Regions from separate parts of the Homo sapiens genome. Here region 1 is linked to region 2. Evidence: fine-mapped expression QTL. Tissue or cell type: whole blood. Region 2 holds a variant in brackets; the other region holds the start of a gene. All regions are shown on one strand. Distances are between the middles of the regions.

Region 1 (8,111 bases), 92 kb before region 2:
CATCTGTACAAAAATTTAAAAAATTAGCCAAGCATGGTGGCAAGTGCCTGTAGTCCCAACTACTCAGGTGGCTGAGGTGGGAGGATCACCCGAGCCTGGGAAGGTCCAGGCTGCAGTGAGCCATGATCACACACTGTACTCCAGGCTGGGTGACAGGCTTAAACATTTTTGAAACCCCATCTCAAAAAAATAAAAAATAAGAATAGTTACAGTTAGATAAGCTCTAGTGTTCCATTGCACAGTAGGATGACTATCGTTAATAAAAATTTATTGTGTTTTTCAAAGCAGCTAGAAGAGAGGAATTTGAATGTTCTCAACACAAATGATAAATGTTTGAGATGATGGATATGCTAAATACACTTATTTGATCATTAAACATCGTATACAGGTATGGAAATATCACTTGTACCCCATATGTATATATAATTATTATGTATCAATTAAAAATAAAAGAATAAAATTATATTTCAAAAATACTTGGTTACAAGAGAAGATCTATCATAAAATGAATAAAGTTTAATAAATAAAGGACCTGAGTTACAGGTCCTTTCCCATGCACGGCCCCTGTGAGAGCCTGGGTTGCTAAGAGTGATAGAGTTCCAGGTGGAGAGAGGAAGCTGGGTTACAATCAGGAAACATTTCTATGTCAGCATTTTGGGTAAATTGCTTAAAGGGATCTCAGAAGAAAAGGAACTAATTCTCCAGCACTCCTGTAATTTGTCATGATATAATTTCTCATTCTAAGTAAATATTCGCTTTCATGCCTAATTTTGTATTTGCAATTTTGCATTCTTCTTCTTAAAGAGGGCTCCCATAATTGTATAAGCCTCATGCCTCACAAAACCTGAAGGTGCCTTTGGTGAGGAGGATCATCAGAACACCAGCAGAGTACCTCGACGTGTGAAATCTAGCACTGGATTCCATCCCTGACTTTTCCTAAGAATCACTGTGAATGCTCTGGACAAATTGCTGCTGCGCTGGGTGCTCCCTGTGTCATCACACTTCCTAATTGTACTTCTGGGTCCTCTGAAGCTGTTCCCAGTGCTTAATCGTAAGAAAAGAAGCTCCAAATACTAGTTCAGAAACTCAGGTAGAAAGAGACCTTAAATGTCATGTCCAGCCACTCTTCTGATGCTTGAGTCTTCTCTTCAGGAGGCATCTGGGCCTGGGCTTGGACCCCTTGCCTCAGTCAACCCATTAGAAGTGTCTTTCCTTGTCTTGAGTCAAAACCAGTCCACTGCTACTGGCATTGCTCTATACTTCCAGGCTGTACAGAAGATGTCTAACCTTTCAGATGAGAATGGCAGAGGAAAGCAAGAAGAAAGAAACTTTAATTGTTCCTCAACTTCCCAATTAGGCACACCATTAGGGGTTTTTAATATGGTTCTTGATTTAATCTTCTCATTAACTTTCTGATGTAAGTATTATTATTTTATTCTAGGGTTCCCAGATGTAGCAAATAAAAATAGAGGATATCCAGTTATATCTGAATTTCAGATCAAAACAAATGATTTTTAAATAAAACATACACTCCCAAAAGTGTGAAATTAATTTGTCCTTGGACAAGAGATATGGAAATGTCATGTATTTTACCTGGAAATCCTGTTATTATGCCCATTTTTGGAGCTGAGGAAACTAAAGGTAGGAGCCTAGGTAAGTAGTGGAGCTGGAATCTAAGCCCAGGTCCTTGATTTCAAAGCACAACCCCATGCCCCACAATATCATACACTGATTTAGTATCTGCCTCCTACCTACCCCCAAGAAAAATGTGAAATTAATTTGTCTTTAGAAAGGAGCTACCAAAGCTATAAAAACAAAACAAATGTATTTGCAGCTAAGAGAAGACAATCTCCAGGAAACTACTGCTTCAGTTATTTGACACTGGGCAGAATTTTTGGTGAGAAATCAGCAAGATCATAGCCTGGAGTGAACACTGGAGGCATGAGATGTCCTTGAGAAAGAGGCTAGAACAGAGGGTGGAACGCCCCTTCTATTAAAGCAGTTGTTTTCCAGGGTCTCTGGAAAGCTCCTTCCTTTGTCGTGGCGGTGGTGGGGAAGGGGAGGCTGGGACCCTAATGCATGACTTTCCACCTGGGTGTCACTGGCACCTGATGTCCTAATCATATTTCCCTGTCACCTCTCAGTGCTGATTTACTTTCTCCTCCCATTCTACATGCTGCAGAACTAATTGCCTGCCTAATTGCCAAAACGAATTGCTGTGACATTCATTGTTCATCTGCTCCTTTCTCCGGCTTGAGCTCAGGCAGGTGGCTCCCATGAAGGCAAGGGTGGAATTATTCCTGCTTTAGGGCCAGGATGCTTCAGAGTGATGGCCCAACAATTATCTTCCTCATGGAGGCGGACCAAGGAATCACCTTCCTCATTGAGCAGGGGACAATAATTCTTGGCAGGGGTTCCCCTTCTTCTGCTGTAAGATTGGGTAGCTTTGACAGGTTGTGAGTCAGTTAAATTGTACTTTTCAGGGAGTTCCTCTCTCCCATTTGGAGATTAGGATTAGATTTGTTGGTTAAGAAACTGACCGAGAGAGGAGAGACAGCTCCTTGCTGGCCACATAGCTCATTCATGGTGAAGTTGAATCTGGGGCTCAGATATCCCAATTCATAGCCCAGAATGATTTCTACTGCACCACACCACAACTGTTGCAGTTGCACTAATTACGGTTTTATATTTCCTTATAAACTTTTATTAAACCCCTATCAAATAGTATGTCCTCATTGGTAGCAAGAATAATAAATATTTATTGAGTTGTTATGAATATTAAGCCTACTTTTTTTTCATGTAATCCTGAAAAAAGGCAACATGACAGAGATGCTCTCAGTATCCTTATTTTATATCAGGGAAAGTGGAGGCAGAGGGAGGTTAATAACTTGCCCAGGTCTGACACCAGATCCCATCCTCTTACCCCCACAAGCCCATGTGCAGATTCCTCCTGACAGCTTCTGGATTCTGATACACGAAAGAACTTATGAAGATGACTTGAAGGCTGGAGCTGGCGCAACATGAAACTAATCAACCAGATTATGCAAATTATTATGTAAACTCCTATTATTGAGCCAGGATTCATGACAGCCCCTTTTTTCCAACGCTGCTGAGATAAAAGCAAATGGATTGCAACACTAGCTTGGGATGAATTCAGGGAGCTTGGAAAGAATTCCTGGGATTTTCTGGGCAGTGGAAAAGACAGTGGGTTGGGAGTCAAGAACCTGAAGTTTAGTTCCGGATCTGGCATTAGGTAGCTGCATGGCCCTGGGAGGACCTATGTGCCTCAGTTTCTTCAACTGTGAAACGAGATAAGACTCCATGCTCTGGAAGACCCCTGCCATTCTAGGCATCTCGGATGGCATGTCCAAGATGGAAGCACACAATGGCAGAGGCTTGTAGCGACCTTCAGGACAGCTTTCCAGTAGCTGTAAATAAAAGTCTTATTGTTTGGTTCTTGGTCTTTCCCCCCTCTCAGTGACAGGAAGAATAATAAAAGCAATGGCACTATTGTGTGAAATAAGTGTTTTCTCATCCAAAAGAAAACATGACATATACAATAGCAAACCATTTGCAAGCTGAAAAAGTAATTAATTGTATAATTCACTGAACATGATAGGAAAAGTGAATTATGATAAAGGAGAAGGACTGAGAGTTAACAAATGAAAATTTTATTTAAAAGTTTTAAAATTTTGTTTTTTTTAAAAAAGGAGAGCATTGAAAGGTGATTAATCTACAGAAACAAAGAACTATTTCAAACACATTTAAAAAGGCACAATTAGAAGAATACCGCAAAAATAAAAAGAAAAATTCAGTTTGATCTGAGGGGGAAAAGAAAAAGCTGTTTTCATGAAAAACAGATTTTGAAGTACTTTTGTCATCAGCTTCCTTTCAATTCTTCTGGTTAATTTCATGAAGGCTGTGCGACCTTTCAACTTCCAAATGTTTGCAGGAGGGAAGGGTGGTAACGTGTGAGTGGAAAAACAATTAATTTTCAAGGTATGGGATTTTATAGTAGAGACTTCCTTAGCAGGATGGACCGTGACAGGGTGTTAGTGATGGAGACCTTAGGAGGAGAGGGCAGAAGATATGGGTTTGAGGTCCTGATGTACTCTGCCTGCTGTGTGATCTTGGACAAGTTCCGACCCCTCTCAGGGGTTCAACATCTTCCTACCTACATGAAGTGATGGGATCAAACACCTCTGTGGCCCTCTCTAGTCTATATGTTTGCATTTCTAACTGTAGAGCATGATAAAAAAATAAATCAGAAGTCAGTGATCTTTAGGTTACTAGTCAGGATGAAACTCAAAAGATCTATTTTTAAAATTATGAGTATTGGGTGTGGTGAAAATATTCATATTTGGGGTCAGAGAGTTTTTCTAATAGAATCAATTCTAGAGCATTCAGACTTGCTCTCACCCCAAAGAGGAAGTGAATGAAAGCTCTTCTTTCTCCTCTGCTGCTTTCTTTGTCCATGGGAGTATGCAAATTTTTCTGGCAACACAGAAGACTGAACACAGGAAGCCTGAACCCCGTGAAGCCATAAGGCTTAGCATGGGTGTGGAGGGTGATCAACCCCTCATCTGTCATTCAGAACTCCATGCTGCAACACAGAGGGGAAAAAAAACCTTCTGCTCCCTGTTTCAACCTCAAGGGCAGAGAACACAGGCCGAGTTGCTGTTCTTGTCTCACAATCTGGAGGCCAGAAGTCTGAAATCAAGGTGTCGGCAGGATTGGCTCCTTCTGGGAGCTGCGAGGGAAGTATCTGTTCCAGGCCTCTCTCCTTGGCTTACAGATGGCTGTTGATATGGTTTGGCTGTGTCCTCACCCAAACCCCATCTTGAATTGTAGTTCCCATAATCTCCACGTGTCATGGAAGGGACCCGGGGGAGGTAATTGAATCATGGGGGCAGTTACCTTCACGCTGTTCTCGTGAAAGTGAGTGAGTTCTCAGGAGATCTGATAAGGGGACTTTCCTCATTTTACTCACTCAGTTCTCTTCCTGCCACCACTTGAAGAAGGACGTGTTTGCTTCCCCTTCTGCCGTGATTCTAAGTTTCCTGAGGCCTCCCCAGCCATGCTGAACTGTGAGTTAATTAAACCTCTTGCCTTTATAAATTACCCAGTCTTGGGTATGTCCTTATAGCAGCATGAGAATGGAAATACAGCCATCTTCTCCATGTGTCTCTTTACATTGTCTTCCCTCTGTAAGCGTTCGTTTCTGTTATAAGACACTAGTCTTATTGGATTAGAGACTGTAATGACCTCATTTAAATTTGATTACCTCAGTAAACACACTATCTCCAAATAAGGTCACATTCTGAAATATTCAGGGTTAGGACTCCAGTAATATCTTTTTGTGGGGAGACACACTTCAATCCATAACATACTATAAGAGAAGGGAGCGCTTACCACTGTCCATTACCTGGAACCAGTTCAGACAACCATCATCTTTCTACATGCGATGGAGAAAACAGTTCACCTGGGCATTTTTGCTATGACAGGAGGAAACGTCAATATCAAACCATTGGAGAAGGTAGCTGAGTCATTCATTTGTGGCAGCAACCATCTTTCCTTCCCGCACCCCCTGGCTAGGCTGCTCCATGTTGGGAGGTGGTGTGTTCAGTACAGCCACAGTGAGCTAAGTGAGGGCTTCAGCTGCAGGCTGGAGTGACCCAGGGAGGAACTGCCGCCTATCAAAAGGAAACACCTGCCACAGAAGGTTCACTGAAGCCTGAGAAAATAAACGTCAAGAGCTCTGGGCTGTGCCACCACCAGTCTCCACCACTATTCTGAGGCAGAATGCACCTATTGGCTCACAATGCTGTGAAAGAAAACAAGAAAGTCGTGATGGTGAGCGCTGCCCTGCAGAGATAATGAGCCACTAGAGTAGTTCTGAGGCAGGAGCCAGAGGAGCTGTGACACAGAGGCAGTCAGGGAGTGGGACTGGGGTCACAGGAGGGGCTGGACCCAGTGGTCTAGTGCCTCATCTCATTCCAGATATGTGACCTAAGATCTGCATGTGTGTGCCTGTGCATGTGTGTGCCTATGTGTATGTGGATATGTGGCAACATATATGTGCATGCATGTAAGTGAGTACACATGCATGTGCATGTGGTGGGGTGTGGGTGACTGGATAGAGGGAGCATGGGGAAAGGGAGGGAAAAGAGGGTTAAAACCGTGACAGGATAATAAGCATCTGAAATACTTAACTACAACAAAATGTTCTGAGGCTTTGTACAGCCTTATTTTCCAAACTGCAGGTTGTGGCTCAGCAGTCAGCTGGGAAATCAATTTACCCATGCAGAGATTCTTAACCTGGGTCTGTGGACACTGCCCTTTCCCCACAAGAGGCCCAAGGATAGAATTGTATTTCAATATCATTGATTTCCTTTGTAAGCCTAAGAGTTTTGCTTTATGCATTTAAAAACACTACAAGAAAGGATCCATAGGCTTCATCACATGGGGTAGAAATGGCACGTGCACACATGCATACACACACACACATACACACAAACAGATACACACACACACACAAACACATATACACACACACACAAGGTTAAAAATCTCTAGGTCAAAACCAGCATTTTAAAAAGTTATTAAGATAACTAGATTATAAAGAAATTAAAAAATTTGAGCTATGCATGTAATGAGGGTACTGTTTTGTGAAACTGGTTTTAGATATACAAATACTTGTGTATATAAAATATACATATGTATATGTGTGTACATATTTATGCACACACATTTATTTATTTGTTTATTTTGTGATGGAGTCTCGTTCTGTCACCCAGGCTGGAGTGCAGTGGCATGATCTCAGCTCACTGCAACCTGTCTCCCGGGTTCAAGCAATTCTCCTGCCTCAGCCTCCTAAGTAGCTGGAACTACAGGCATGCCACCATACCCAGCTAATTTTTGTATTTTTAGTAGAGACGGGGTTTCACCATGTTGGCCAGGATGGTCTCGATCTCCTGACCTTGTGATCTGCCCGCCTCAGCCTCCCAAAGTGCTGGGATTACAGGTGTGAGCCACCCTGCCTGGCCATTTATTTTTAACTGTAGGGCATAGGGCAAAAAATTGATAGCTAGTGTTCAATAGCCTACTGGACATTAGGGTAAAAGATTTTTTTAAAAAATTTTTAAAAATTATGAGTGAGGAATGTAGTGGGCCATTTGTGTTTCAGAGTGGAGGGCTCTGCTATTAGGCAGACATTTGACTTTTCACTCGGCACATCCACATTCCAGCCAGTCTCCCAGTGAATGGTGATAAGCTGGCCCTGATCATGCCTGTATGGCTACACCCCTCTCTGCCTTGTTGAGGCCTGAGTTAATTTGAAGTGTTGCAGAGACATGTGTTGATTCCTGTGGCTACAAGGCTCCCGGAAGTGTCAGAGGCAGAGGTATTGTTTCCTGGGAGGGGTGTCTTCCTGTGTACCGCTGGTGTACCACTGGTGTATGCCTGCCCAGAAGTTTGTTCTTTCACACCCACAGGGCCACCTGAAGAAACAGAGATAGGGTCTCCCACGGAATGGGGCAGCAAAAGAAGTAAAGCAAAAGTGAAGAAAAGAGAAATAGGGGGCAGCAAGTGTTCAGGAAAAGGGGGGTCAGATAGGAGAGAGAAGCAAAGAGAAAAATCAAAGTGTATAAAGCAAGTGGCGGGACTCGCTGAGCTGTAGGTGTAGTAAGAAGCTATCACACCAGCCTGTTAGCTCCCTGCAGGATTCACAGCATCAAGGATGGTGAAACCGAAAGAAAGAAAAGGTAGTTCAGCAGGAAAGATCAACAAAGACAAATCCTGGGACGAATCCAAGCTGCTATTAGAATCGAACCAAGCAAAGATATGACCACCTATGTTAGCGACCTGTTGCTTAGTTTATTTTAAATGAAACTCATATTTACTTGATTAATTTAGAAAATCTGAGATTCACTAGAGCAGGAACTTTGCCTTCCTCAGTTCCTAGACCAGTACCAGTTACATGGTGAAGGCTTAATAAATATTTATAAAGGAATGTTAATTAATCAGCTGGTAATTGATATGTAAAATTGCTTGAAATTATAAAATAATAGTGACAACTAAAAGTAATACAGTGCATAATAGTTTAGAAATCA
Region 2 (8,104 bases):
TTTTTTTCTTTTTTGGTAGAGATGAGGACTCACTATAATGCCCAGGTTGGTCTCAAATTCCTGGCCTGAAGCAATCACCATGCCTGGCATTTTTTTCTTTTTTCCTTTTGGTAGAGATGAGGACTCACTCTATTGCCCAGGTTAGTCTCAAACTCCTGGCCTGAAGCAATCCTCCCACCGCCTCCCGAAGAGCTGGGATTACAGGTATAAGCCAGCATGCCCACCCAACAATTTTCAATGGTGATATAGTTTGGATATATGTCCCCTCCTCTGTCTCTGGTCCTTCTCCCCTCCTCTGCTTCTTCTCTGGCCATGTGAGGTGCCTGCTCCCACTTTGTCTTACCATGATTGTAAGCTTCCTGAGGCCCTCACCAGAAGCAGATGCTGGTGCTACACTTCTTGTATGGTCTGCAAAACTGTGAGCCAAAATAAACTTCTTTTCTTTATAACTTACCCAGCGCCTCAAGTATTCCTTTACAGCAACACAAAATGGACTAATACAAATGGCTATATAATACTCTATTCAGATAGCATCTAATCTATTTAATAGTTATTTTTCAGCATTTGCTATTAAAATTATGCATATACTAACTTAAATACTATACTATACTAACCTCAATGCCAAACTTCAATTACTTACTTATTTTAAACTAATTATCTATTGATTTTAAAAATCACCTAAAAATTTTAATTGGTTTATGACAGCAAAATATAGTTGACCCTTGAACAACACGGGTTTGAACTGCATGGGTCCACTTAAATACAAATTTTCTTTCATTTCTGCCACCCCTGAGACAACAAGACCAACCCTTCCTCTTGCTCTTCTTCCTTAGGCTACTCAATATGAAGACAGGGAAGATACTTTTATGATTATCTACTTCCACTTAATAGTATGTATGTTTTCTCTCCCTTATGGCTTGCTTAGTAACATTTTCTTTTCTCTAGCTTACTTTTAGTGTAAGAATACAGTATATAATACATAGACAAAATATGTGTTAACTCTTTATGTTATTGGTAAGGCTTCAAGTCAACAGTAGGCTATTAGTAAAGTTTTTGGGAGTCCAGAGTTATATGTGGATATTCAACTGTGTGGGGGCCGATGCCCATAACCCCCACATTGCTCAAGGGTCAGCTGTATACTATAAAGTTTGTTTTTTCCCCCAACCATTTCTGCTTCAAATCACAAGCACACTTCCTAAAATACCAGGGTCAATCTAATTCTAGTTCTGAGAATTATCTTGAGAAAAAGTTATTTTGTCTCTGTCATCTTTAGCTGCACACTATGGATGGCATGTAAAACATGTAAAAAGTTGTAGATTCTGCCAAACAACTTAAATAATGTTGATCATTTAAAAGCATTAAAAAATTCCTACTCATCCTAATTGTAGATGAATAAAGGAATTCCTTAGAAATGAATGGTATGCGTATAAAGCAGAATTTATTAATCCTAAATTCTTTTGTTCTGTTTTAAATTCTTTATTAGTCACAGTCTATTTAACATCATGAATGGTTAATAAAGTATTTACTCATATAACTAGTGGTATATATTTCCCTGAACAGTTCAAGAACCTCTGCTAAAATTCAGACCTCAATCATTAGAGAATACAAACATTAACTTAACCAAAGGTCTAAATGATGATACTCAGCACTGTATTTAAAAGCTTTTCTTCTTTAGAAACAATGAAATAAAATATATTCCAGATAATGGAAGTCTGGGGGAAATTAAGAGAATGGGAAGTGGCCGAAAGGTGAAAATGAACAGAAAGTTCAGCTACACACATACCACAAATTCTTCATCCACTTTATTTAATGTTAATTCTGCATCATCTTCTGCAACGCTTTCTTCTTCTAATTCTTCTACTGGGTATATTGGCCTAAAATAATAAGATTAAACATGAGGTGATAATTTTAATATTTAGTAAGACAAAAAAATCATAATGCAAATATCATGTCCTCTATGCCAGGTTTTGTCCTTTTTCATTCCGCTTCCATAATCACTGTTAAATGTTTCATGTATTTTTCCTAAAACTTTCTATGTAAAAAGCAAAAGTGTTTATCTCCAAATTTATAAAAAATGAGATGATACTATGCATGGTGTTATCCAACTTAATGCTTCTCACTAATACACCATATTTAAATACATATGTATTTCTCATTATTTTTTACATACAAGCACTGTATTTCATTGAACAATCAATACCATAATTAATGTAATTGGCAGCCTATGACTGAACATAGAGGTTTCTAATTATTTTGCTGGACAATATTGCAAAGATCATCTTTGTACATTTATCATTACACATACCATTTAGAATAAATTTGTTCAAGTGAAATGGCAGGGTAAACAACTTTGTACAGTATTGTTTTGCTATATACTGCCAAAATTGGCTTCCAAAATGTTACCCTAATTTAGACTCCAAACAATACTGAAGGAGAGTAACTCCATCTCCATATATTCACCAATATGATATATAATACAAACTTTAATTTTAGCCAATCAACCAAGTGAAAAAAAATCTCATTCTTGTTTTAACTGCATTTCTTTAGCATGAAAGTGATTGAATATCTTGTCATATTTTAATTGCTTATTTGCACTTCTTTTTAGGTGAAATGTCTATTTATACCATTTACTTTTTGGCTTTTTGTATATTAAGAAAATTAATGTTTTGCCTAACCTCTCAAAAATTGTTCCCCTAGTGTATTACTTATAATCTTGGCTATTCAAGATTGTTATAGTTCTTCTTAGATAGAGTTGGTAACCTTTTCCTGCACAGACCCTAGCTTTAACATCATATATTAGAGGCTTTCTGTCATACCACAACCTCTATACTCCTCTGGTCTTTTAATACTTCTATAGTTTTACTTTTCATATTTACATCTTTGATCAATCTGAAGTTTATTTTAACATAGGTAATAAGAAGGAGTCCAGCTTTCTTCTTATTTCCAAAATCTAATTAGTGATCCTAACATTAAACTTTGAAAAAAATCATTTATTCATCAAGATTAATGACACATTTCCTATATTAAAAGTACTTAAATGTATTTGGGCTTATTTATGAAAACATATTTTTTTTCCTTTTTTTAATCCAGTAACAAAGCTAGAGAGAAAACTTGTATTAAAAACTTGTACCTGGCTGGGTGTGATGGCTCACATCTATAATCCCAGCACTTTGGGAGGCCAAGGCAGGTGGACTGTCTGAGACCAGGAGTTTGAGACCAGCCTGGGCAACATGGTGAAACCCTGTCTTGACAAAAAAAATAAAAAATTAGCTGGGAGTGGTGGTGTGCACCTGTAGTCCCAGCTATGCGGGAGGCTGAGGTGGGAGGATCGCTTGAGCCCGGCAGGCAGAGGTTCACTCCAGCCTGGGCGACAGAGTGAGACCCTGTCTTAAAAACGAAAACCCATGCCTCAATCATGTTAAAAAAATACAAAAATCAACATTTACTAATATGCAAAATACTATGAACTAAATCAATCATCTTAAATAATAAATTTCCTAATTTTTCATTAATTA[G/T]AATTCGAAAATATCTCAAAGGCAATGTTCTTCTAGGATTCATTTTGACATTTAGATATATAAAAAATTCATCTATATGTAACGTCTATCTCATTTACATGTTACAGAGCTGACATATTCTCTAATGTTGACTACTTTTCAGCTCCCTCCTTTTATTCCTCATTTAAACATAGTCCTTATAAGTTATCCAAGTCACAGTCTCTTCAATAAATGGTGCTAAAAAACAAAAAAAGAAAAATAAATAGTACTGGGGAAACTGGATATCCACATGCAAAAGAATGAAACTAGACCCTTACCTCTAACCACTTATAAAAACCAACTCAAAATGGATTAAAGACTTAAATATACAATCTGAAACTGAAACTACTAGAGGAAATGTGGAAGAAAACACTTCATGACATTGGTCTGGGCAAGAATTTTTTGGATAAGACCTCAAAAGCACAGGCAACAAAAGCAAAAATAAACAAATGCGATTACATCAAACTTAAGGAAACAATCAAAAGAGTGAAGAGACAACCCACAGAATGGGAGAAAATATTTGCAAACTACCCATCTGACAAGAACTTAACATCCAGTATGTATAAGAAATTCAAGCAACTCAATAGCAAAACAACAACAAAAAAACTAGTCTAATTTTTAAAATGAGCAAAAGATCTTAATAGACATTTCTCAAAAAATACATAGAAACGGCCAACAGATATATGCAAAAATGCTTGACATCACTAATCATCAGGGAAACGCAAATCAAAACCACGATATCATCTCACCCCAGTTAGAATGGCTATTACCCAACCCCTCGCCCCCCAAAATAACAAAGGCTGCTGAGGATATGGAGAAGGGGTAACCCTTGAACACTATTGGTAGGTATGTAAATTATTAGTACAGACACTATAGCGAACACTATGGAGGTGCCTCAAAAAACTAAAAATAGCACTACTCTATTATCCAACAATCCCACTACTGATGATATATCCAAAAGAAATGTAATCGGTATGTTAGAGATATCTGCACTCCCATGTTTATTGCAGCACTATTCACAATACTCAAGATACGGAATCTGCCTAAGTATCCATCAAAGGTTGAATAGAAAATGTGGTATATTTTCACAGTGGAATACCATTCAACCATAAAAGAGAATGCAATTCTGTCATTTGTAGCAACCTGTATAAGCATGGAGGACACTATGTCAAGTGAAATAAGCCAGGCACAGAAAGACAAATATCATAGAAGTAGAGAGTATAATAGTGGTTACCATAGGATGGGAAGGGTAGGGGGAAGGGAGAATAGGGAGAAGTTGGTCAAAGTGGGTGAGTACAAAGTTACAGTTAGGAGGAATAAGTTCTAGTGTTCAATGCACAGCAGGGTGACTACAGTTCACAATATTATATATTAATTAACAATAATATATATTTGAAAATAGCTCATAGAGATTTGGAATTTTCTTGCCACAATAAAATGATAAACGTTTGAAATGATGAATATGTTAATTTCACTAACTTGATCATTGTATATTGTACACATGTATCGAAACATCACATTGTACTCCAAAATTTGCAGTTATGTGCCAATTAAAACTAAAAAATAAATTATCCAACTTACAATACAGAGGCCAGGAATAAGATGTGTTGAGAAACAAAGGAAGTGCAAAATAGAATAGTGGTTGAGATATTACACCATAGCTTCTGGTGAATTTAGAATATATTAGTCTATTAATTTAGCAGTTTTTTAAAATGCTAAATACAGCAGCACATCTCATAACTTATCTTCTCTTGAAATTTAATAAAGTATTATGGACCATGTAGCCATTCTTTATATTGTACTAAATAATAATGTTTGGATTGAAGCATATGAAATTGCCATTTTTTAGTTTAAAAATAGATGAATATGAGTAATTTCATATGGCTCATCCCAATGATAACCTAATTCAAGGAAGTTATTAAACTTAATAGGGAGATTATATCTAAAAGAATATAATTGAATATACATTAAAATGTTATTAACAGGGAATAATATATATATATGTGTGTGTGTGTATATAATCTTTCTACCGAAGTTAGTTCTAATTAAAAAAAAAAAAACACTGCTTACTCGCATTTTACCTGAATAGTGCCTTCTACATTCTAACCTATTAGTAATCCCAAACTGCAAAGCATAAAATTTATGTTTTCTAATTATAATCTCTATAAATTGAGTTTCCAAATGTTCTATTTCATCTATATGCTCAATATCTATTAAACATCTAAGATACACCAAGCATTATGCTAACAGAGTACTTGTGAAGATTTCATGATTTCTAGCAAGAATGTCAGAATAGTAAAGAACAATTTTATACCATAGGATAAATATAATATAATAATAGAAATAAAGCACTGTCAGGTTGGACACAAAAGCAATGAACAATGTCTAGGAGAGTGTCAGGTAGTTTCTTCAGTATTATTCTTGCCCAGTAACTACTAGCAAAGGAGAAAATCCCACTTAAAGTACTGTATTAATTTCCATTTTTCCTTAAATCTGTAGCTATCAGTTCCCTCTGTGTATATACTATGTTTGTGTGTGTGAACATATGTACAAGAGACTTTAAAAAAAAAGTCCAGTATTTACAAAGATATGTAGTCACAGTTAAACCTTTAATAATTACATATTTGAACAGGAAAACGGCATAATAATATGTAACACATTACTTCAGAATTAGTTTTGAAGACGTGAGACATTCTAATTTTGTCTATACTGGCTTTTCTTAATTATCTGTGGCATTTTCAATTTAGAATAGTCAAAAAGAATAATTCTTTTATGTTCAATTGAACAGCTCTGTACCCTCAGAGGCAAATGCTATGCCCATAAAATTACTATCATCAGGGTGGGTAATTTTTACCTTTTCCAGGTGAAACCAATATATTTCAATGCTTCTTCAGCGAAGCAATCAAGAACATAGCATACATGTTCTCCATAACCTGACTTTAATTTTGAAGGAGGAAAATCTGCAGTTCTTCCCTGAAAAACAAAAGAAAAAACAGGGTATTATTTGTTAGTTATACTCCAAATGTCAAATATTTTAAGCAAAGAACTGCTGAATGGATGTATCACTTTTCTTTCAAATGATTTACAATAACTGTAATTACACTGCTTCATACAAATCCATTTCAAGTCTTTGTAACCCATTGATACATAAAAATACTCAAAGACTTTTATTGTTAAAAGTATCAAATTAAAAAGCAATAACATCATAGCAGCAGAACAAATTATTGATCTTATTAGAGTGAAAAGAAACCAGTAAAACTATTTAAACAACTATGTTTAAGGACAGAGTGATTCACTTGTCAAAAATTAATAACATTTGTGCCAAAAATATCTTACTGCCTGCCCAGGAAAAGTCAGAAATGAAAAAGTACAACTGCTGTCATGGTCTTAAGTACAAGTTCCCTTTCAGAATATGAAGTGTTTTGGCTTTGTAGGATTTTTTTTTAATTATCATTTTTTAGATCAAGAATTAACCACCCCAAAATTTACCTCTCAGATATATCAAGATTTTTTTAAAAAAATATTACTTTGGACTAATAAAGAGTATATACTGAACATTTTCAGAAGTGACATTAACATTATAATGTAAACTATTTTAAGGAGGTTTTACCTAAAAATAAATTCATATTTACAGAGGAGTCATCTAAATGGCTAGCATTTGTTATTAAATTACCAGTATTAAAATTCATAACTTGAGAACAAGGAAAAAGAAGGGTCGTTTACACTTACAAATGACCGAAGCTCGGATAGTATGTTAGATATTGTTGCATTAGGGTCATCATATTCTTGAGGCTGCTCAAAGGGACGTCCCGCTTTATTAATCAACCAAGCAGCAAGAGTACAAAACATGTAGAACTGTTCGCCAGGGTTGGTAGGCAGTGCAAAATAGTGTCTGTTTCAAAACAAGGAGGAATGGGGGCGGATGTGAAATAATGCAAATAAGTCTATAATAACTAATAGGGCCGAATTCACAATTGTCCAACAATCTTTCTTCCCCCCAAATGGCCATCAAAAGACCTCGATAATTCACCCTTTGAAGTTTCCAGTAATCCACAGCACTCACATTGAAGTTTTTAAATCAGCAGGATTAGGGCAATTACTACTGTACCCAAAATATTAGATCAAAGACCTTACACCCAGGAAATGTAGTGCATGTTAGAGCACAGAGCATGTAGAATTTTTGCCAAAATGATTTAAGTGTCAGTAATAATATGTAAGTACCTTATGAATGAAAATGGTAATCTGGAAGAACCTCAGAGTTTAAAAAAGACCTCAACGATTACTCATTATGCATTTTTACTGTTTCTAACCTATCACCTATGGTGAACATTTGTTTCTATGTTGGCTGCATATTCAATCACCTGAGGAGCTAATAAAAATACTGGTACTTGACCAAACATTGCTTCTTCCCTCATGAATGAATTAAATCAGAACTTCAGTGAAAGTAGGCCCAGTATGGGGTATATTTCAAAAGATTTCTACATGTTTATAAGGTGTAGTCAGGATTAAGAACCTGTGAATGTCACATCACCAGTCAAACATCTGTGGGCTCTTGCTTAATCCCCTAGTCT

Evidence for each region. PIP is the estimated chance that this variant, and not a neighbour inherited with it, causes the effect.
Region 1: LINC01215 starts here. The variant in region 2 is fine-mapped to the expression of LINC01215 in whole blood (INTERVAL, PIP above 0.99).

Annotation. Positions count from the first base shown.
Region 1 is chr3:108,120,056-108,128,166 of GRCh38, forward strand. LINC01215 (long intergenic non-protein coding RNA 1215) reads left to right here and starts at 5,009. Exons shown (of 2, transcript NR_110030.1): 1 at 5,009-5,087. LOC105374031 (a long non-coding RNA gene) reads left to right here. Exons shown (of 8, transcript XR_007095997.1): 6 at 289-388; 7 at 805-1,051; 8 at 1,442-3,091. RefSeq lists enhancers at 4,192-4,451, 4,246-4,746, 4,532-4,581, 4,652-4,791, 5,072-5,121 and 2 more.
Region 2 is chr3:108,212,148-108,220,251 of GRCh38, forward strand. IFT57 (intraflagellar transport 57) reads right to left here. Exons shown (of 11, transcript NM_018010.4): 2 at 7,263-7,425; 3 at 6,388-6,506; 4 at 1,784-1,874. Among named protein-coding and RNA genes, the nearest start is that of IFT57, 6.2 kb to the right of the region's middle. The variant G/T (reference allele first, on the strand shown) is at 3,516.